Linked DNA regions of Homo sapiens. Changing the gene in region 1 together with any one later gene gives a genetic interaction. Each region holds a gene or a part of one and is shown on either strand. Other genes may lie near its edges.

Region 1 (5,056 bases):
AGGTCAGGAGTTCGAAACCAGCCTGGCCAACATGGTGAAACCCTGTCTCTACTAAAAATACAAAAATTAGCTGGGCATGGTGGCACACACCTGTAATCCCAGCTACTTGGGAGGCTGAGACAGGAGAATCACTTGAACCCAGGAGGCGGAGGTTGCAACGAAGCCAAGACTGCACCACTGCACTCCAGCCTGGGCGACAGAGCAAGACCCTGTCTTTAAAAAAAATAAAATAGGCCAGGCGCGGTGGCTCACGCCTGTAATCCCAGCACTTTGGGAGGCAGAGGCGGGCGGATCATGAGGTCAGGAGATCGAGACCATCCTGGCTAACACAGTGAAACCCTGTCTCTACTAAAAATACAAAAAATTAGCCGGGCGTGGTGGCGGGCGCCTGTAGTCCCAGCTACTCGGGAGGCTGAGGCAGGAGAATGGCCTGAACCCGGGAGGTGGAGCTTGCAGTGAGCCGAGATCGCGCCACTGCACTCCAGCCTGGGCGACAGAGCGAGACTCCGTCTCAAAAAATAACATAACATAACATAACATAACATAACATAACATAACATAACATAACATAAAATAAAATACAAAATTAGCCGGCCGTGGTGGCACATGCCTGTAATCCCAGCTACTCAGGAGGCTGAGGCAGGAGAATCACTTGAACCCGGGAGGCGGAGGTTGTGGTGAGCCAAGACTGCACCATTGCACTCCAGCCTGGGCAACAAGAGCGAAACTCTGTCTCAAAAAAAAAAAAAAAGAATTGAAAAGAATCAAAAAGTTAAAAAAATTAAAAAGTAAATTTAAAATGTTACAGTAAGCTAAGGTTAATTTATTATTCAAGAAAGAAAAATTATTTTTATAAATTCAGTGTAGCCTAAGTGTAAAGTATTTATAATATCTATAGTAGTGTATAGTAATGTCTTAGGCCTTCATATTCACTCACCACTCACTCAACTAGAACAACCTCTATAAGTTGTCCTATAAGCTGCATTCAGGTGTAGCACCTTATTTTCTTTTGAGACCGCGTTTCGCTGTTGCCCAGGCTGGAGTGCAGTGGCCCAATCACAGCTCACTGCAGCTTTGACCTCCCAGGCTCAAGTGATCCTCCTACCTCAGCCTCCCAAGTAGCTGGGACTACAGGCACATGCCACCACACCCAGCTAATTTTTGTACTTTTTATAGAAGCGAGGTTTTGGCATGGTGCCCAGGCTGGTCTCAAACTCCTGGACTCAAGCAGTCCACCTGCCCCAGCCTCCCAAAGTGCTGGGATTATAGGCATATCAGCCAGCTGGTGGAGCATCTTTAATATCATATTTTTACTGTACCTTTTCTATATTTAGAAATGTTCAGGTATACAAATACCATTGTGTTATAATTGCCTATGGTATTCAGTACAGTAACATGCTGTACAGGTATTTTGTAGCCTAGCAGCAACAGGGTATATACCATGTAGGCTAGGTGTACATAGCCTAGGACATACTGTGTAGGTTTCTGTAAGTACATTCTATGATGTTCACATATTGATGAAATTGCCTGACAACATATTTCTCAGAACATATCCCTGTTGTTAAGCAACACATGACTGTATTCCCTTTATTTTTTATTTTTTTCAGACAGGATCTTGTTCTGTTGCCCAGGCTGGAGTGCAGTGGTGCCATGATTGCTCACTGTAACCTCAAACTCCTGGGCTCAAGTGACCCTTCCCACTTCAGCCTCCTGAGTAGCTGGGACTACAGGCACATACCACCACACCCGGCTAATATTTTTGTATTTTTTGTAGAGGTGGGGTCTCGCTATGTTGCAAGCTGGTCTTGAACTGGGCTCAATCAGTCCGCACATCCTGGCCTCCCAAAGTGCTAGGATTACAGGCGTGAGCCACCACACCCGGCCCAGACTCTTTAAGTTGGCAAAATACTCAGTTATGGAAAGCAGAATGCTGGAGGATGACCAAAGGGATAACGAGTCCTGATTCATGTTGACCCTATGACTTACTGCAGGTTGAGTATCCCTTATCCAAAATGCTTGGGACCAGAAATGTTTTGAATTTCATATTTCTTTTGGATTTTGGAATATTTGCATTATACTTACTAGCTGAGCATCTATAATTGGAATATCCAAAATCTAAAATGTTCCAATGAGCATTTCCTTTGAGCATCATGTTGGCACTCAAAAAGTTTCAGATTTTGGGTGGGAATTGAACAATGAGAACACTTGAACACAGGGCGGGGAACATCACACACCAGGGCCTGTCATGGGGTAGGGGGCTGGGGGAGGGATAGCATTAGGAGAAATACCTAATGTAAATGACGAGTTAATGGGTGCAGCAAACCAACATGGCCCGCACATGTATACTGACGTAACAAACCTGCACATTGTGCACATGCACCCTAGAACTTTAATTAAAAAAAAGAAAGAAAGGAAAGAAAAAGTTTCAGATTCTGGAGCATTTCAAATTTCAGATTTTGAGATTAGAGATATTCAACCTGAACACAGCTTCAAATAAGGCTAATTTATTTATTACATGGATCCTGACCTTAAGTATTCAGAACAAAAATAAAATGTCCCAGCCTGGATAGAGTGACAATACTTTCTCTCCATTTCTATCTCAAGCTATTAGAGATTACCTGTGGCAGCATTCTTTTGTTGGAACTTGGTTAAATACATGTTCATTCCTTTCTTAAAGTCCTGAGAAAACACAATTTTTAAAATCCAGGGAAGTCAGATCTCAGAATTTATAGTATATTTGTATATCAGTAATCAAAAACAAATTTACTCAAATACTCAAGTATCAGATACACTGAAACACATATATCCTTCTGATGCCTACTGCCTTTTATTTAATAATGCGTACTCTATGCCTTCTATTCTTGCTCTTAAGTTTTGTAACAGCCTCCCATTTCCACTCCCAAACACACCTGCACATCACTCATCTAAGAGACCAGAGTAGTCAACTTCAAATAATTGAATTCTCATTCTTTTTGGTCATTAAAAAAAAATGACAAGCCAGAAACTATTTGGGAACTTAATCCAAATAAAGTGAGACTTTTTTTCATGCAAAACTCTTATGATTTCACCATAAAAGAATGAAATATTTAAAGTTTTTTTTTACCTTATCCCCAATGTAGTCATGCAGCATTCGGATGACAGATGCACCTTTGCTATATGATATAGCATCAAATATCTCATCAACCTCAGATGGATGGCCCACACTGACCTGGCAGACAGTGTGATTCAGGGTTATGACAGGAAGCAGATAGCCTGTAATACTGAATTACATAAAACGCTTTCTAGGAAAACCCTTCTAACTTACATTTTTCTGCCTTTAACTCACTCATAATGTATAACGATGGTCCTCAAAAAAATGTAGTAACTAATAATAATAAAGTTGAATAGAACATGATTCCTGTCATCCCTTAGAGCCTGGGTTCCAGTCCTGGCTTTGTTCTGCTGGGAAAGAAGCCACTATGGTTCTGTTTATTTTTGGGGTAGTTGCAGAGGAGTGATGAGGAAGATATGGAGGTGAAGAACATTAGATTTCTTGCACTAATTGTAATGAATTACAATTATATGGGAGCCTAATTAAATATGTTGAAGTAGCATTATAACTCTAGTTCTTTAGATACAAAATTTATATATATAAACTGAAGTAGGGATAGGCTAAGTCAAGAGAATTAAAGTATTCACAAAACAGACCCTGACAATAAAATATGTCCAGAATTTTCCTTGACATAAACAATGGAACCATAGTGTTACCCAATAGGTATGACTTCTCCCATACTATTCTTTTTCTTTTTTTTTGGCAGAGTTTTTTGCTCTTGTTGCCCAGGCTGGAGTGCAATGGCACGATCTCGGCTCACCGCAACCTCTGCCTCCCAGGTTCAAGTGATTCTCCTGCCTCAGCCTCCCGAGTAGCTGGGATTACAGGCATGCGCCACCGTGCCCAGCTAATTTTGTATTTTTAGTAAAGACGGGGTTTCTCCATATTGGTCAGGCTGGTCTCAAACTCCCGACCTCAGGTGATCCACCTGCCTCAGCCTCCCAAAATGCTAGGATTACAGGCATAAGCCACTGCGCCTGGCCAGACCAATTTTTTTTTACTGCCTACCTTAAAAAGAAATGTTAATTAGAACTTAGACTTACTAGCTTTTCAAGACTAGAAATATGAACCAGTAAAATCACCCATGCTATTTTCTCTTATTTTCAAAGTCCAAAGTATCTATGTAACAAATTACGTATTTCATTGTAAATGAGAGCAGTCATAGGCTAATGGTTAGAAAGTATGGCTCACTTCAATAGGATGGCTGTTATCTAAGGCGTCAAGCTCCTGGGCACGGGTGTAATCAGCAGAAACAAACTGAGTCCAAATATCATACTCTGGGAAGCAGTGGTCTACACACAGATATTCAATCCAGGATGCAAAACCTTCATTTAACCAAAGATGAGTCCACCATTCCTAAAAACAAAAGATGAAAATACTTAAAGAAAATGAAATGATTGTCATTCTACTAATCTAAAACACTCACATGTCCCTTCCACTATATTCCCAAACTCACAATTTAATGACCTAAAATTCAGTTCAAAACATTTGGCAAAGAACTCACATTTCTGAAAAAGAGAGAAGACTAAAAGAGATGTCAAGAAAGGCCAACTGGTGATATGAGAATTATATCTGAGGGTCATTTTCTTTTCCTTTCTTTTCTTTTTTTTTTTTTTGAGACAAAGTCTTGTTTTGTCACCAGGCTGGAGTGTTCACCAGTAGCTGGGATTACAGACATGTATCACTATGCCTGCCTAATTTTTGTATTTTTAGTAGAGAGGGGGTTTTGCCATGTTGGCCAGGCTGGTCTGGAACTTCTGAACTCAAGTGATCCACCTGCCTCGGCCTCCCAAAGTGCTAAGATTACAGGTGTGAGCCACCATGCCTGGGCTAAAGGATATTTTCAAAACATTGTAAATAACTTCTCCCGCAAACCCAGACAGGGTCTCATTCTGTTGCCCAGGCTGGAGTGGCAGGGGCACCATCGTAGCTTACTGCAGCCTTGAACTCCTGGGCTCAAGCAAT
Region 2 (5,056 bases), on another chromosome or scaffold:
GTGAAGCTTATGTTACAATGTAGAGAGTATCTTATAATAAATGTTCTTAAGCTTAAAACAAAAATACAGGTTCCCAGGAAAAAATTGTGGCATAGTCTCATGTGGTGTGATGACAGAGGAATGAAATTGATTTTTACCAGACACTGCAGAAATAAACATTAGCTCTTTTAGCTCAGTAAGTGCACAGAAACCGTGTTAGGGTTAAGGTCAACCTGGAAGGAAATTTCAAACACATGCCTACCAATTTATTGATGGCTTAGATCAGGATCTTGTAGGCAAGGCAAGGGGAGGGATGACAGAGTCCGGGAGCTAAAATATATTGAAGGGCTAAATTGATGTGCCTAGAGTAAGGCATTTGGGTCCGAAAAAACTGATTTCTCATCTAGAAAATGTGAAGAATGTGACTTGGTAGCAATATATTTGATCAAAGTTTTGGGGGTCTGGCTGATACAATTGTTTCAAATCTTTCTTGTTAGTATTGGATGCCCACTGACATCCCAGAGGCCAATTCAGTTTCCAAGCAAAGGAAAATTGATCTTTCTCTTCTGCCAGGAATAGCTTCCTATACCCCCAAAGTCCTATTCAGGTCTTGGGGTACACACTGCCCAGTGGGCCTCTTTCTTATCATCTCAGTTAGAATCCTTTTCTCCCTCTATATATTTTGCAACTTTAACAGTTCAGTTTTTTGGCAATATATTGAACATATTTAAAGTATACAAATTTATCAGTTTTGATATCTGTAAACATCCCATGAAACTATCACTACAATCAAGAAAAACATATTCTTAGCCAGGTGTGGTAGCTCACACAGGTAATCCCAACACTTTAGGAGGTTGAGGCGGGCAGATCACCTGAGGTCAGGAGTTCGAGACCAGCCTGGCCAACATAGTGAGATCTCATCTCTATCGAAAATTTAAAAATTAGTTGGGCGTGGTGGCGGGCGCCTGTAATCCCAGCTACTTGGGAGGCTGAGATAGGGGGATTGCTTGAATCCAGGAGTTCCAGGCTGCAAGGAGCCAAGATTGCACCACGGCACTCCAGCCTGGGAGACAGAGAGGGACCTTGACTTTAGAAGAATAAAAATAAAAAATAAAAAATAAAAATGGCTGGGTGCTGCGGTGGCTCACACCTGTAATCCTAGCACTTTGGGAGGCTGAGGCAGGCAGATCACTTGAGGTCAGGAGCTTGAGACCAGCCTGGCCAACCTGGTGAAACCCTGTCTCTACTAAAAACACAAAAAATTAGCCAGGCGTGGTGGCAGGCGCCTGTAATCCCAGCTACTCGGGAGGCTGAGGCAGGAGGATCACTTGAACCGGGGAGGCAGAGGTTGCAGTGAGCTGAGATTGCGCCACTGCACTCCAGCCTGGGTGACAGGGCGAGACTCCGTCTCCAAAAAAAGAAAAACATATTCATTACCTCCAGAATTTCCTCATGCCCCTCTGTAATTCCTCCCTCCCTCCACCCCCATCTTGCATTTTCCAGAAGTTTATGTAAATGGAATCATATAGCGTGTTCTCTTTTTTGCCTGGCTTCTTTCACTCAGCATAATGATCTTGTGTTTCATCCATACTGCTGCATATATCAATAGTTTGATCCTTTTTATTGCTGAGTGGCATTCCATTGTATGGCTATATCACAATTTATTGATCTATTTACCCACTGATGAAACTTCAAAAAAATGTTAGCCATTCTAATAGGTGTGACCACTGAGATTCTAATTTTGTTACTGCATGTTTCCCCCTGGATGTTCCTCTGGTTCTTTTTAAAATCTGCTATGTCATTAACATTTTTTTTCTGCTCTCTGAAGATATTTTACAAGCTTATTATTGATTTTTAAAAACCTGGGCTAGGCGTGGTAGCTCACACTTGTAATCCCAGCACTTTGGGAGGCTAAGGTGGAAGGATCACTTGAGCCTAGGAGTTGGAGATCAGCCTGGGCAACATAGTGAGACCTCATCTCTACAAAAAAAAAAAAAAGAAAAAGAAAAAAATTAGCTGGGTGTGGTGGTGCACGCCTGTTGTCCCAGCTACTGGGAAGGCTGAGGTGGGTGGATTGCTTGGGTCCAGGAGGTCGAGGCTGCAGTGAGCCATGATCATGCCATTGCACTCCAGCCTGGGCGAGAGCACAATACCTTGTCTCAAAAACAAACGAACCAACTTCGTAAGCTTATTTTTAAAATCTTTGTCTCTTAATTCCAATATATGCAGTAGGTTTGGGTTTGTTTCTACTATCTGTCATTTCTGTTGGGTCTTACTTGTTTCCTTGTGTGCCTGATAATTTTGACTTGCTGGCTACTGCCCTGGAAAAAGTTTATGTCGGGCGGATAGGATGAAGTTAGTGGGGGTTAGGATAAAAGTGTTTGCCTTCAGAGACTTTCTGTTTATACCATACATCTGAAACTATTAGTAAAGAAAGGGGAAACTTCAAATCAAGTACATGGCTTCAGCTCCCCTGGCTGCCCCAGGCTGTGTGTACCTGGGTGCAAATCCATTCAAGGTGGACTGGTGGCCACAATTTGGAAGTTTGTTCCCAATTTCCTCATCTTTTGCTTTGCTCAGTGACAAGGCAGCTTTCTCTATAGTCCTCCGGTGTTGAAGGGAAATAAGGGTATGCTTATCTGTTTCCTTTTAGCCTGGGGGGACTGCCTCTTGCACTCCTAACAATGAGGAGGGTCTTCTAACAGATTCCCCAACTTGTACTGGCCTTAGATCTTAACCTTGGTTCTCTGGCACAGAAGTGTTCAGTAATGACAAATGCCCTGTTTGCAAAATGGGCCACTTGGTAACTCTGATATTCCACTTATCATTCTTATTAAAGGCTTTCACATAAAAATTGGTCACTGAGGCCTGGTGTGGTGGCTCACACCTGTAATCCCAGCACTTTGGGAGGCCAAAGTGGGTGGATCACGAGGTCAGGAGTTCACGACCAGCCTGGCCAACATGGTGAAACCCTGTCTCTACTAAAAATATGTGGTGGCGGGTGCCTGTAATCCCAGCTACTCAGGAGGCTGAGGCAGGAGAATTGTTTGAACCCAGGAGGTAGAGGTTGCAGTGACCTGAGATCATGCCATTGCACTGCAGCCTGGGCCACAGGGCGAGACTCCGTCTCAAAAAAAAAAAAAAAAAAAAAAAAAATTGGTCACTGAGCTCCCCAGTACCTTTTTTTATTTCCCGGACACAGAGTCTCACTCTGTCGTCCAGGCTAGAGTGCAGTGGCGCGATCACGGCTCACTGCAACTTCCACTTCTCGGGCTCAAGCAATTCTCCTGCCTCAGCCTCCCAAGTAGCTGGGATTATAGGTGCCTGCCATCACACCTGGCTAATTTTTTTTTTTTTTTTTATTTCAAGTAGAGACAGGGTTTTACCATGTTGGTCAGGCTAGCTTCGAACTCCTGACCTCAAGTGATCTGCCCACCTCGGCGTCCCAGAGTGCTAGGATTACAGGTGTGAGCCACCATGCCTGGCCCCTGATACCTTTTCAGCTATTCAGTGCTTTCAAGGTCATTTGAAAAACATATTTTCTGCGGCACTTTTCATTTTTTTTCATCAGGAGGATTTATCCAAATAATCTCATCCACCATTACAGGAAATAGGAAGCAAATCTGCTTTTTGCACTGCCATCACTCAGGATTCCTCCAGAGGACTCAGAGTTCTAGAAATTGGTGAAACATTTATATAGATGATCTGACTAGGCAGAAGAGGTCTGGAATCTACACAATTATTTTCAATAAATGCCCATAATATATGGTAACATTAAAGAAGACATTCTGTAAAATGTAAATATCAGTAAGAATATAATGGCATCATCACGGCAACGACTTAAAGATTGCTTTCCTCCTGCTTATGCTTGAACTGTTTCTCGAAGATCAGACTGAAAGACAATGCCAGATGGAAGGCTGCTGCTTCTCCATTTGGGCCCACGTTTCCTTATGTATAAAATGATGGCATCTGAAGTCCTCATCAGCTCCAACATTCTAAATTTAATACTATTTTTTGGGGAAACATGGGATAGCTGAAAGAGGCGATCAAGCAAAAGAGATTAACTGAGAAATCTCTTAACTAGTGAGAAAAATAGATAAAAGCAGGTAGAAATTTCTATGGACTCAATGTCTTTGGTCTCTTTTAGCTGGGTTCAAGTATTTTAGGAGGAACTGGCAGGATGCTTAATGGCTGTTATTTTTTGCCACATGAAACAAAACTCAGACATTATCTCTTTTGTGCTAGAAATAATCTGGTATATTGCCCAAGTACCAACAAAGGTAAAACCATCAATATTTTCCAAAAGACAGTTCAACTAAGGAAACGGTAACAATAATAGCAGAAATAGATTTTATCAAAATATACAGTGATCTGTGACTCCTTTTCTCTCAGTTAAAAACAGTGCCTAAAACCCCTAACTTTAGCCTGCTTTTAGGGCTTAAACTTTCTAGCAGAAAAGGTATTTTTAAAGGACTGGCAAGGTAAAGAACAAAGCTTCTGACTACCTCCTTCTAACAGTGAAATACATTTTATCTTCAAATACTCTGAGTGACACTGAAGCACTGCACCTACATTTTTTGCTGGTGGTGGGAATGGGATGGGCATGAAAGCATGTAGAAGGGCAAGGAGAACGTACATTTTTTTAATGCCATTCTAAAACAATTATAACAGCATATAGGAGTGGAGGGCTCTGCTGTGAGACCATGACTTGGCTCAGGGCTGCTCATCCAATCTCTTTCCAGACCTTCCTTTCTTTTTGTGTAAAATGAAGCCCTGACTCTGCAACTAGGATCTCACTAGATACTGAAGATATAGAATTCTTGGATGACTAATTTAAATTTTGTTTGGCTCGTAAAGGAAGGAATATATCAAACAGGTTTTACACTCTAAAATAATATAAAATTGGAAAATGGATGGTCAGGGCTTTGTTTTTATAACCAAGCAAAGCAAAACACGCATAAAAACATACCATTCCTGAAGTTCAGGAGAAGGAATGAGACCTGCAGTTCCATTTTTGGAGTTTTCCAGTTTACCCTGCCACCAATTATGATCATCCTTACTAATAATCTGGATGATG
Region 3 (5,056 bases), on another chromosome or scaffold:
GCAATGCTTTCCTCTATCTTGTCATCACCATTTTAATGAGTTTAAAAGTAAAGCTCTTGGGCTGGGCACAGTGGCTCAAACCTGTAATGCCAGCACTCTGGGAGGCCAAGGCAAGTGGATCGCTTGAGGTCAGGAGTTCAAGACCAGCCTGGCCAACATGGTGAAACCCTATCTCTACTAAAAATAAAAATATTAGCCAGGCATGGTGGCGCATGCCTATAATCCCAGCTACTCAGGAAGCTGAGGCATGAGAATCGCTTGAGCCTGGGAGGCAGAGGTTGCAGTGAGCCAAGATCACACCACTGCTCTCCAAGCCTGGGCGACAGAGCGAGACTCTGTCTCAAAAAAAAAAAAAAAAAAAAAAAAAAAAAAAAAAAAGTAAAGCTCTTTGATTCAAGGAGTTATATAAACACAGGAGGAAGAAAATGACTTCAGGCTAAAGAAAAACAACAGCAACAAGAAAACACCATCTGGTTTACAACCAAAACAGGTTTGATTGCAATGCCATGATTGCTAAACCACAGCTCTACCCTAGTGTTCCTAAGACATTCCAAACAGCTTCCTTGGCCTTTTCTTAAGTCCTTTTAATCTCTAGGTAAATGGAGTACATTTGAGACCAGCAAGAAAACTCCTCACACTGTTGGTAGAAATAAACATTGGCACAAACTACCAGCACTCAAAATGTACATGACCTTTAACCCAGTGATTCATTTCCCAGGAATTTCTCCAGGCACAACACCCACAGAGGCACAGGATGTCCTCTGCAAGGTGTTTACAGTAACAGGGGATTGGAAACAACCTAAATGGCCATCAACAGGAGCCTGGCTTAACAGGTGAATTGCATGCTCACACCACGGAATACTGTGTGGTTCTCTGAAAGAATGGGGTAGGTCCTTATGTACTAATGTGAAACCTCTAAGATAGCACTTTAATGAAACGAAGGTGTCTTGCAGTGTATACTGTAGTGTGCTATGATATTTATAAGAGAAAAAAGGCCTGAAAGATAAGCTTACGTTTTCTTGTTTTTGTTTTTGAGACAGAGTTTCAGTCTTGTTGCCCAGACTGGAATGCAATGGCTTTATCTTGGCTCACTGCAACCTCTGCCTCCCAGGTTCAAACAGTTCTCCTGCCTCAGCCTCCCAGGTAACTGGGATTACAGGCATGCACCACCACACCCGGCTAATTTTGTATTTTTAGTAGAGACAGGGTTTCTCCATGTTGGTCAGGCTAGTCTCGAACTCCCAACCTCAGGTGATCCGCCCACCTCAGCCTCCCAAAGTGCTGGGATTACAGGCGTGAGCCACCACTATAATATTTATAAAAGAAAAAAGGCCTGAGAGAGAGATGTGCTTATTTTTTCATATTCTTTTTTCTTTTCTTTTCTTTTTTTTTTTTTTTTTTTGAGATGGAATCTCACTTTATCACCCAGGCTGGAGTGCAGTGGGGTGATCTCGGCTCACTGCAACCTCCACCTCCTGGGTTCAAATGATTCTACTGCCTTAGCCTCCCAAGTAGCTGGGACTTCAGGAGAATGCTACCACACCCAGCTAATTTTTGTATTTTTAGTAGAAACGAGGTTTCACCATGTTGGCCAGGCTGGTCTCAAACTCCTGACCTCAGGTGATCCGCCTGCCTCAGCATCCCAAAGTGCTGGGATTACTGGCGTGAGCCACCATGCCCAGCCTATTTTCTCATATTCTTTAAATATAATCACACAATGTAAGATACATGAATGGTATAGACATGTGGTCACATATATGAACCAACACTGAGGATGGGGAGCCAGGAGACTGACTTCTTTCTTTTTTTTTTTTTTTTTTTTGAGATGGAGTTTCCCTCTTGTTGCCCAGGCTGGAGTGCAATGGCGCAATCTCGGCTACCGCAACCTCCGCCTCCCGGATTCAAGCAATTCTCCTGCCTCAGCCTCCCGAGTAGCTAGGATTACAGGCATACACTACCATGCCCAGCTAATTTTGCATTTTTAGTAGAGACGGGGTTTCTCCATGTTGGTCAGGCTGGTCTTGAGCTCCCAACTTCAGGTGATCCGCCCACCTCGGCCTCCCAAAGTGCTGGGGTTACAGGTGTGAGCCACCGTGCCTGGCCAAGACTGACTTTTTAATCTTTAACCCCTAGTATTACTTGTAATTTTTACCATATGCCCACATGTCTTAGTCGACTAAAAGAAATTTCCATACAACTCCAACGTACCCTCTGGAGTTGAAGACTCCTTTCTGCGGCTGGATGGCGGGGCCAGCAGGCTCATGGCACTGGGCTGGTGCTCTGGCGACCGCACGATGGCGGACATGGCGATCTGCTGCCTCGCGGTGGCTGGCGTGGATGGGTGTGGGTGGTCCGTTGCTTTGCGGTGGGCAGCTGCAGAGAGACCAGGACAATGCCTTTTGGTTAGCTGGGTCGCCTAGAGGACCAAACTAAGCCGAATGTCCCTGGGCTATCTTTCAAGGACCCAAGACCAAAAGAATATGCGTCACATCAACTTGGCAATGCACAGGGGCCATACGTTTTTCAGACATGGGATGTCTGGTCTGAAAGCGTATGGGCCATAAACGAAGACACTGAGCTAGTTAGTCTTGGCTGATCTCACTGAGATCAATCCTCTGCCTTTTCCACATCCTTGAGCATTTTGGAGAGAGTGAGCCCCTACCTTCCTCCCGGGCGGACCGGAGCTCGATGCGGGTCTTCTGAAGGGCTTCCTCTAGCTCTGCACAGCGAGCTTTCTCCTTCTCCAGGGCCAGCTTCAGCTCATTGTACTGCAGAGGAACCTGTGTGGGTAAAGCAGGGTCCTCTTTCCGTCGACTAAATAAACCCTAGCAATGGAAACAGAGATATCTCCTAACTCCTGGAAACTGGCACTTGAAACTAGCTAAAGGAAATCTGACTCGGGAGGAGCAAACCACAAAAGCCAGGAGCATACTCACTGTAAGTGTATTTAGTAAAAATGGCATGTGAAGGGGGGGAAGGGTAGGCTGAGCCACAGCCCGTTCCAGCCGGCTGAAAAAAATAGGGGTGCGGAAGTTTTCACCAAGAGGATTAAAGATGCTTGAATGGCCACCACCTCTTCCTCTAGCATTGCCAAGACAGGAGAGTCATGTCCTGAGTCTTTCCCATTCAAAAAATGGAATCAGGAGAGTATGGAGTATGGAGTCAGGAGAGATGGTTCAGAGGTCACTCTTGCCTTGGAATATGTCTCATGATGCTCAGTTACAAGACACAGAGATGAGTGTTTTGTAAAAGGAAGCAAAATTTTAAAAGGAATGCTAAAATGAGGTCAAAACAAGGGGCTTACTCAAAAAAAAATGCAAATGAAAATATTTACTATACATGGAAAAAAAAGGAAAACAGAATAATGCAACTTAAAAAAAAGGTAACTAAAAAAAATAACAAATGGAAACACCCTAACTAAATCAAGTGACATAACCAGGTAACAGTTCACTGCTAAAATAAAAAAGATTAAATATCATAAGCATAACAACCATATACAGTCACGCAGCATGCAAGAAAATCCTTCCCGTGCAGCCAACGTCTAGTGGGAGGCGGCCTCTGAATGTTGTGCTCATGCCCTTACAGCGAAGATGGCACCGGAAATATTGAGACAACTGTCAACTTCAGCCCTCCACTCCTTCCTCCTAGGTATTCCAAGTCATCAAGGCCTCTCCTGCAAAACCACTGCCACTGCTGCTATGGTATGCTTCTGCATTTGGAAGGAAACTGCAAGCTTCTTCAAGACTTTTCTGGAACTGAGAACACCTGGCCAAACCTAGTATGAAGGCTTTAGTGGTTTGGGAAAGCATGTATAGATCAGGCTTATGAAAAACAATCTTCTCATGTGCACTATGTATAACCCTGCCCCTAGTTTGTAATTTGTCTCCTGCAATCTAAAAGGGTTGTTCAGTACTTGGCAGAGGGGAGAAGTGTCCAGTCAGACACTTCAGGCAGGTCACCCCAGCTCCCTGAGTTCTAGTCTCTTTGTGAGCCGATCAAAAGGACTGGACTAGATCACTGTTAAAGTCCTTTCTGGAGTGTGGTACGAGAGACCTGAACTGCTGAAGCCCCATACTTGTGACTTGCTAACTCCCTCTAGAGTCATGTATGCATGACTTGGTATAAATCTTTCTCTCTGCATACATCCCTCTGCCCCAACTGCTATGTGTGTGGGCTGGGGAGGGATTACTTCTTTAACAAAGATACTATGATTTGAATGGTCATAAACAAAAAGTAGTTTGTTAGACTTGATCACTGATATCTTTCAGTAAGACCTATTATAATTATCTCAAAATCTATTTTTCAACCCAAAATAAAACAACAAAAAAAGTATACTTTGTTTTCTTCTATGTTCCTATGATCATATATCACAGTGGTGTCCACTGAGCCATGAATGATGAGTGAAACTGACAATTCCCACTTTTCAAACACTTTGACTCACCTTTTTCTTTTTAGCAGGTTGGTCCATTTTGGCTTGCAGAAAATCAATGAGTTTGGTTTGTTGAGAAATAGTGCCTTCCATTTTCACCTTTTCATGAGAATAGAGAACCTAAAATTCAAGAAAACAAACTAACCTCAAATCCAGACAGAAGTATACTTTTAAAGTTGGTACTTTAAGAAACTAAAAAGTGAAGTTGTTAGGACACTAATATATGAAAATCCAACACAAACAGTACTGAGTCAGTATGTATTTAGTCCAGTTTTACTGCAAAAGAGAAAAAAGATATATTTATAGATAAATATGTGAAAAAGTAAAAATAGCAACAGGTTCCTTGTAGGTCATGGTCACTATAGAAATCTTCCAACTTCTCTGAATGTTTGCAATCTTTGAAAATAAAATCTTGGGGAAAATACACACAATATGCAGCACAAAGATACTGACCATTTTACCAGATGACTGTACAATCATGCTTTGCCTCTGCAGACTTATTTATTTATTTATTTTCTTGAGACAAAGTCTTGCTCTGTTGCCCGGGCTGGAGTGCAGTGGTGTGATCTCAGCCCACTGCAACCTCCACCTCCCGGGTTCAAGCCATTCTCCTTCCTCAGTCTCCCG
Region 4 (5,536 bases), on another chromosome or scaffold:
CTCTGGTGCCCTCCCCCGACACATATTCTGTTTATCTTCCTTCTGACTCCCCTACCCTGATTCTCTCCTCTGGCCACTCCTGGCTTCTATCTGGCCACCCCTCTCCAATCCAGGCAGAGATGATCTGACAAGTCAGGAGCCCCTTGGCCGAGAGCCGATTTCACAGTTCCCCTCCACCACTGCCTTGAATGTGGCCCACCTCTCTCTGAGCCTTCGTTTCCTCATCTATAAAATGGGTTAAAAATAATAGCAGCTAATATCAACGGTGCCCTTATGACTTGCCGGGCCCCTGATACATACTATGCATCTATCAACTCATTAAATTTCCATGGCAAACCTCAAAGTAGAAAGTGTTGTGGGCCGGGCACAGTGGCTCATGCCTATAATCCCAGCACTTTGGGAGGCCGAGGCGGGTGGATCACCTGAAGTCGGGAGTTTGAGACCAGCCTGACCAACGTGGTGAGGTCAGGCTCGTCTCTACTAAAAATACAAAAATTAGCCGGGCATGGTGGCAGGCGCCTGTAATCCCAGCTACTTGGGAGGCTGAGGCAGGAGAATCACTTAAACCCGGGAGGCAGAGATTGCAGTGGGCTGAGATCTCACCACTGCACTCCAGCCTGGGAGACAGAGCGATATCCTGTCTCAAAAAAGAAAAAAAAAAAAAGTGTTGTGAATCCAATTTTATAAGGAAGAAGCTGTGACACAGAAAAGAGAAATAACGTGCCATGGTCATGCAGTTAGTAAGTGGGAGACCTGACTATTAAGCCCCTCAGGGTTAACATCAAGGGTGAGGGTGTGTGTGTGTGTGAGGGTGTGTGTGTCTGGGTGTGTGTGTGGGTGTGGGGGTGGGTGTGGGGTGTGTGTGGGTGTGTGGGGTGCGTGTGTGTGGGTGTGTTGGGTGTGTGTGGGTGTGTCGGGTGTGTGTGGGTGTGTGGGGGGCTGTGTGTGTGTGTGAGGGTGTGTGGGGTGTGTGTGTGTGTGTGAGGGTGTGTGTGTGTGTGGGAGTAATGAGAGTAAGATGTTCTCTTGCACAGTCTCTAAAAATCGACCACCATTATGTGACCAGGGCACTTTCTTAGCTTCTGTAAAAGCTACTGCAAGGAAGCTTCTAGTTTCCCTTCCAATTCACAGCAGCCCATGAGCCCCTTTTCAGCAGGAATTCTGGGTCACCACCTCCGGCCTCCCTCCCTAGCCCCCATTTGGGTGGCTTCCACGTACCTGGATGGAGACATCACTGTAGGAACCGCCAATAACACCAGTGATGGCAGTGGGAGCATCACCATGGGTCGCATAAGAGCCGTCGGGGCAGATGTGGCGTGAGCCATCAGCACCACGGCTGAGTGAGGCACGCACAAAGTCCAGTGCCTGCTCCAGCGCATGTGTGTCCTTGGAGCAACTGTCGAGGATGTGTGCACCCAGGCGCACGCCAGGCAGCAGGTGCGGGTCACGGTTGATGCGGTCCAGTGCAAAAAGCATGGCCTCCAGGCGCTGGATGCCACGGTGCTCATTGACAGGACCACAGTCCTCTGCTGGGCCGCCCTTCTGGTGCACTGGGAACAGCCCACCCAGCACCAAGTCTCCCTCCAGGGTCAGCACCTTCTTGGCTGGGCCCTCAGCCACAGCACCCCACAGCAGCAGCAGTGCCAGGAGCGCAAGCAGCGATCCCATGGCCCCAAAGGGGATGGATGGGTCCCGCAGACCTGGGTCTCCAGGGGATGAGATTAGAAGCAGCGAAGGCAAAGAGAGGAGGAAACAGGGACCAGGAAAGGACAGACAAGAAGAGAGATGCGAAGGGACCCAGCTCCTGCAGAGAGATAGAAAGACAGAAAAACAGACCAGGAAAAGTGGAACCTGAGAGCAGCTGCCCCTTCTGACTCTGCCTCCCCACGAGCCCCTTTCCTAGGTACTCAAAAGCCAGGGAGGGACAGGATGGTGTCATTAAGTAGGTTGAGAAGCTCCTGGGACTCCCCTGGACCTGTCTCTCAGCCCTGGCCTCAGCTTGGTGAGAGATGGGCCATATTCCCCTACCAAACTCAGCAGTGGGGAGAGATGCAAGCAGTGAAGTCCCAGGCAGAGGACAGGAGACCCCAGCCAATGCTGACCCCTCTGTAATTCAAAGGGTGTCCAAGAACAGCACAAACCTCCCAGGACCCCGAGGTCAATACCTTTGGAACAGACTATGTCACAGTCACAAACTCAGAGGTCCCCATCCTGAGCCTTGGATTTCCAGAGAGAAGGAACTGCTGTCTCAGGACCCACCAGGGAAGAGGAAGGGAAGCATCTCTAAGGGACAGTCTCCAACCCGTGGGGAGACTGGAGCCCATGTGAACACCCAAGGGTTCTAACCTTTGGTTCTTAAAAAGCCATCCCCACAGTTTGCTGACTGAGGAAGGAATAGAGACACTAAGCCCTGGGAATGAGACAGCAAGGTGGAATGGCTGGCCTCAGGGAGGGTACCCAAGTGGCTCAAGGTCCTAAGTCAACAGGGCAAGCAGATGTTCACGTATGTGTGTGTCAGGGTTGGGGGCTAGAGTCTCCAAACAGTGCTGAGGGTGAGAGTGCGGGACTCTCTAGCTCTGTGTAGAACACTGCTTGAGATTTTGTGCCTCTGTTTTCTCTTCACTCCCGACCCAGCAGAGAAAGTCACCATTTCCAATCTCCCCATCCTCAGCTTCAGGGCCCTGCCCACCCTAGCCATGGCCCTCAGAGACCCCCTCCCTGTCTCTTCCCCACTGCGTCCAATCATTTGTACCCCAGTTGCCTTCCCAAACACACACCCCACAAAGGCTCTCACAATCACACAGGCTTGGAAAGGCTGGGAGAGGGACATACCTCTTTCCTCAGAACAGGAAAGGAAACTGAGTTTGAAGAAGGGCAGCAACTAACTCAAGGACCCCATGTGCTGGCCACGGAGGCTGAGCCTCTTCATTTTGCCCCCTCAGCTCCCCAGGGCAGGGGCACTGGGCTCCTCTGGGGATCAGGAAAGCAGCAGCTTACCCAGGCAAGCGAGGGAGAAGCAGGGAGGAAGACCAGCACAGATGGAGACAGGGACCCAGATGGGGGCTGAAGCCAAAACTGGTCAAGTCGCAAGTCTCCCAGAGGGGAGGCCCAGACGGAAGCTCAGAGGCAGGAAGGGGACAGAAACCCGGAGTCAGACAGCCAGGAGCCTGGGCCACAAAATCTGGGCAGGGAGCGAGCAAGCCTGAGAGGTTGAGACAAAGACGGAGGCACAGACAGAAAGAAGGACCAGAGGACGCTGGAGCAGGAGGAACGGGGGAGTGCGATGTGGGGCGTGCGTTTTCTGGAGAAGAAAGGCGGGACGCCCGGGGCTGTCTTCCCGCTTCCCGGAGCTCTCAGGGAACGCTGTCTGGACACAGCAGCGCGGGCGCCCCACAACTTGAGGGCCCGCAGGACCCTGGGACGTGAGGTAAGGGCCAAAAAGGTCGGCAGCGGCAGCGGCACCACCACCACCGGCTCACCCTACCTGGCGCGCTGGCTCTGGCGCGGAGAGAATCGGAGTGGAGCGGGGGGCGCGAGGCTCCGGCTCCCGCTCGCTCGCTCGCTGGCTCGCTGGCTCTGCGCTCTCCGCCCGCCCGCTCGCCCCGCCGCTTTCAATCGCGGCCCGCCCCGCCCCGCCCCCGGCCCCGGCCCGCCCCCAGCCCCTCCTCCGTTCCTCCAGACGCCAGGTCTCCTGCTCCCAACCCAGCCTCCGCCTCCTCTGGACACTCCGCGCTCCAGCTTTTCTGGGGACCTCAGGGCCTGGAGCTGTCCGCCTCGTGGTGCTGAATCCCCGAGCGCTCTCGCTCTGCGCTGGAGCGGGTGCTTCGTGGCCCACTCCGCCCCATAGTCAGACTACCACCTAGAGAGCATAGGTGGGGGGCGGGGGGATGCCACGGGGCACGGGGTGGGGAAGGTCACTGCGCCCCGACAGGTGCCCATAGTGCTACTGCAGAGTGGAGGAGCTGGCCTTAGTGCAAGGGGTGCCTCTGGGGGATAGGTAAAGGGGCGCGTGGGAGACGGGTGGAGTCTATTCTCCCCACTCAGCGATTTCAGCTGGGTCCACATCCCAGGCCTGAGTTGGAGGCATGTGTCCTCTGCCACTTTTGAGACCTGGAGCCAGAGTCACTATGAGGAAAAGATTGGGGGAAGGGAGAGGTCAGAGGAGAATGGGGCCTCCCCTTCCTTCCTGCAGATGCCCTTTAAACCTGCCACCCACTCCCATGTAAAAAGGGTATTTAAGCAAGGAGAGAGCAACCTGCAGGAAGGGCTGCAGAACCAAGTACTAGGGTCAACCCTGAGGGAGTGTTAGGGATGGCAGGGGCATCTGGGAGGGGAGGGGCCTAGGGAAAGGCTTCTGGAACTGGCTGCTGCGTAGGAGGGAGTGAGAGCTGGAGCCCAAGCAGAGGGAGGACAGCTCTGAGAAGATTCTCTTGACTCTTCCCTCCCACAGCAGGATGGGGAAGGACGCCCCTGGGTAGAGGGTAGTGGATAAGCTGTAGTGCCAGACTGTGCTGAAGGAATGGGGATTAGAGAGCCTGTGCTATCTGCCCCTAACATGTGCACACACTAACAAGTGCCAAGGGGCATGGCATCCCTACACACATTCCCGACACTGCCCTTTCTTCCACAGGTGTCAGTGGAAGCAAGGCCAGCTCAGATACATGCTAATGAACATGCCAAGCCCAGACCCCTCAGGCACACACACCCACATGTGCGTGTGGCAGTCCGTAGGGGTGCGGGGGTGATCACCAAGGACGAGCTTTTTCCCTGGACACAGAAACCTGATGTCCTGCTGCTGTGGAAAGAATACAGCTTTGAAACGAAACAGACACATAAAACCCAAACAAACACAAGCCCCATCACTAACAGGAGACAAGGTGGCAGTGGGAGACAGACATGCTGTCTTCCACCTCCAACTCTGCCACCGGCTGCTCTCACCCTCTCTGGCTGCCTCAGAGCAACAGCTCCCTGGGGTAGGTGAGCAATGGGCCAGGCCTCTGGAGCAGAGGGGTTGACAGCAGGAGGGTGCTGAGGTGAGGAGTCACACACTCCTTCTAGCCACACTCCCAACCTGCTCAACAAGTCAGCCTCACAAAAGGCACAGGGCTGTAAACACAGATATGGCTGTGTACAGCATCAGCCAGAAAAGCCCATGATGTGGCCTGCAGCAAACAAGCTGCACAGTCGCAGCACATGGACACACAGTTACACACAGCTAGGCAGCCACCACTCCCAGCTGTGTGCACACGGATGAGGACATACACTTAGCCTTACACAGTTGTAAATGTGGACATGGCCACATGCATAGTACACATAAACATGCAACCACACACAGCTATACTTGTAGACAGCCATAATACACATGGGCACACCCCTGCCCCTAAGAACATGTGACCATGTCTACACACGGCTGCACATGTGGACACAGCCACATATATACAGCTGCTCACACAAGGACATGCCACAAATAGCTGTCCACCAAGACATGTCCACACATACATGGCCATAATTATGGATATACGGCTGCAGGACACAT

The links. Genes that interact genetically often act in the same process or in processes that back each other up.
Region 2: changes in NPEPPS (region 1) and CASK together harm fitness less than expected from each alone (positive genetic interaction), as found in Homo sapiens cells (one large-scale study listed by BioGRID).
Region 3: changes in NPEPPS (region 1) and CIT together harm fitness more than expected from each alone (negative genetic interaction), as found in Homo sapiens cells (one large-scale study listed by BioGRID).
Region 4: changes in NPEPPS (region 1) and GRM2 together harm fitness more than expected from each alone (negative genetic interaction), as found in Homo sapiens cells (one large-scale study listed by BioGRID).

What each region holds. Positions count from the first base shown.
Region 1 is NC_000017.11:47,590,108-47,595,163, reverse strand, and holds part of NPEPPS (puromycin-sensitive aminopeptidase), read right to left. Parts: intron 4,448-5,056; coding exon 4,283-4,447; intron 3,261-4,282; exon of another isoform or gene 3,209-3,260; coding exon 3,104-3,208; intron 2,680-3,103; coding exon 2,619-2,679; intron 1-2,618. UniProt on the Homo sapiens protein: Aminopeptidase with broad substrate specificity for several peptides. Involved in proteolytic events essential for cell growth and viability. May act as regulator of neuropeptide activity.
Region 2 is NC_000023.11:41,548,771-41,553,826, forward strand, and holds part of CASK (peripheral plasma membrane protein CASK), read right to left. Parts: coding exon 4,949-5,056; intron 1-4,948. UniProt on the Homo sapiens protein: Multidomain scaffolding Mg(2+)-independent protein kinase that catalyzes the phosphotransfer from ATP to proteins such as NRXN1, and plays a role in synaptic transmembrane protein anchoring and ion channel trafficking.
Region 3 is NC_000012.12:119,716,037-119,721,092, forward strand, and holds part of CIT (citron Rho-interacting kinase), read right to left. Parts: intron 4,550-5,056; coding exon 4,442-4,549; intron 2,826-4,441; coding exon 2,663-2,825; intron 2,374-2,662; coding exon 2,209-2,373; intron 1-2,208. UniProt on the Homo sapiens protein: Plays a role in cytokinesis. Required for KIF14 localization to the central spindle and midbody. Putative RHO/RAC effector that binds to the GTP-bound forms of RHO and RAC1. It probably binds p21 with a tighter specificity in vivo.
Region 4 is NC_000003.12:51,705,116-51,710,651, reverse strand, and holds the start of GRM2 (metabotropic glutamate receptor 2 isoform a precursor), read right to left. Parts: upstream 3,585-5,536; 5' UTR 3,485-3,584; exon of another isoform or gene 1,805-3,484; 5' UTR 1,669-1,804; coding exon 1,219-1,668; intron 1-1,218. UniProt on the Homo sapiens protein: Dimeric G protein-coupled receptor which is activated by the excitatory neurotransmitter L-glutamate. Plays critical roles in modulating synaptic transmission and neuronal excitability.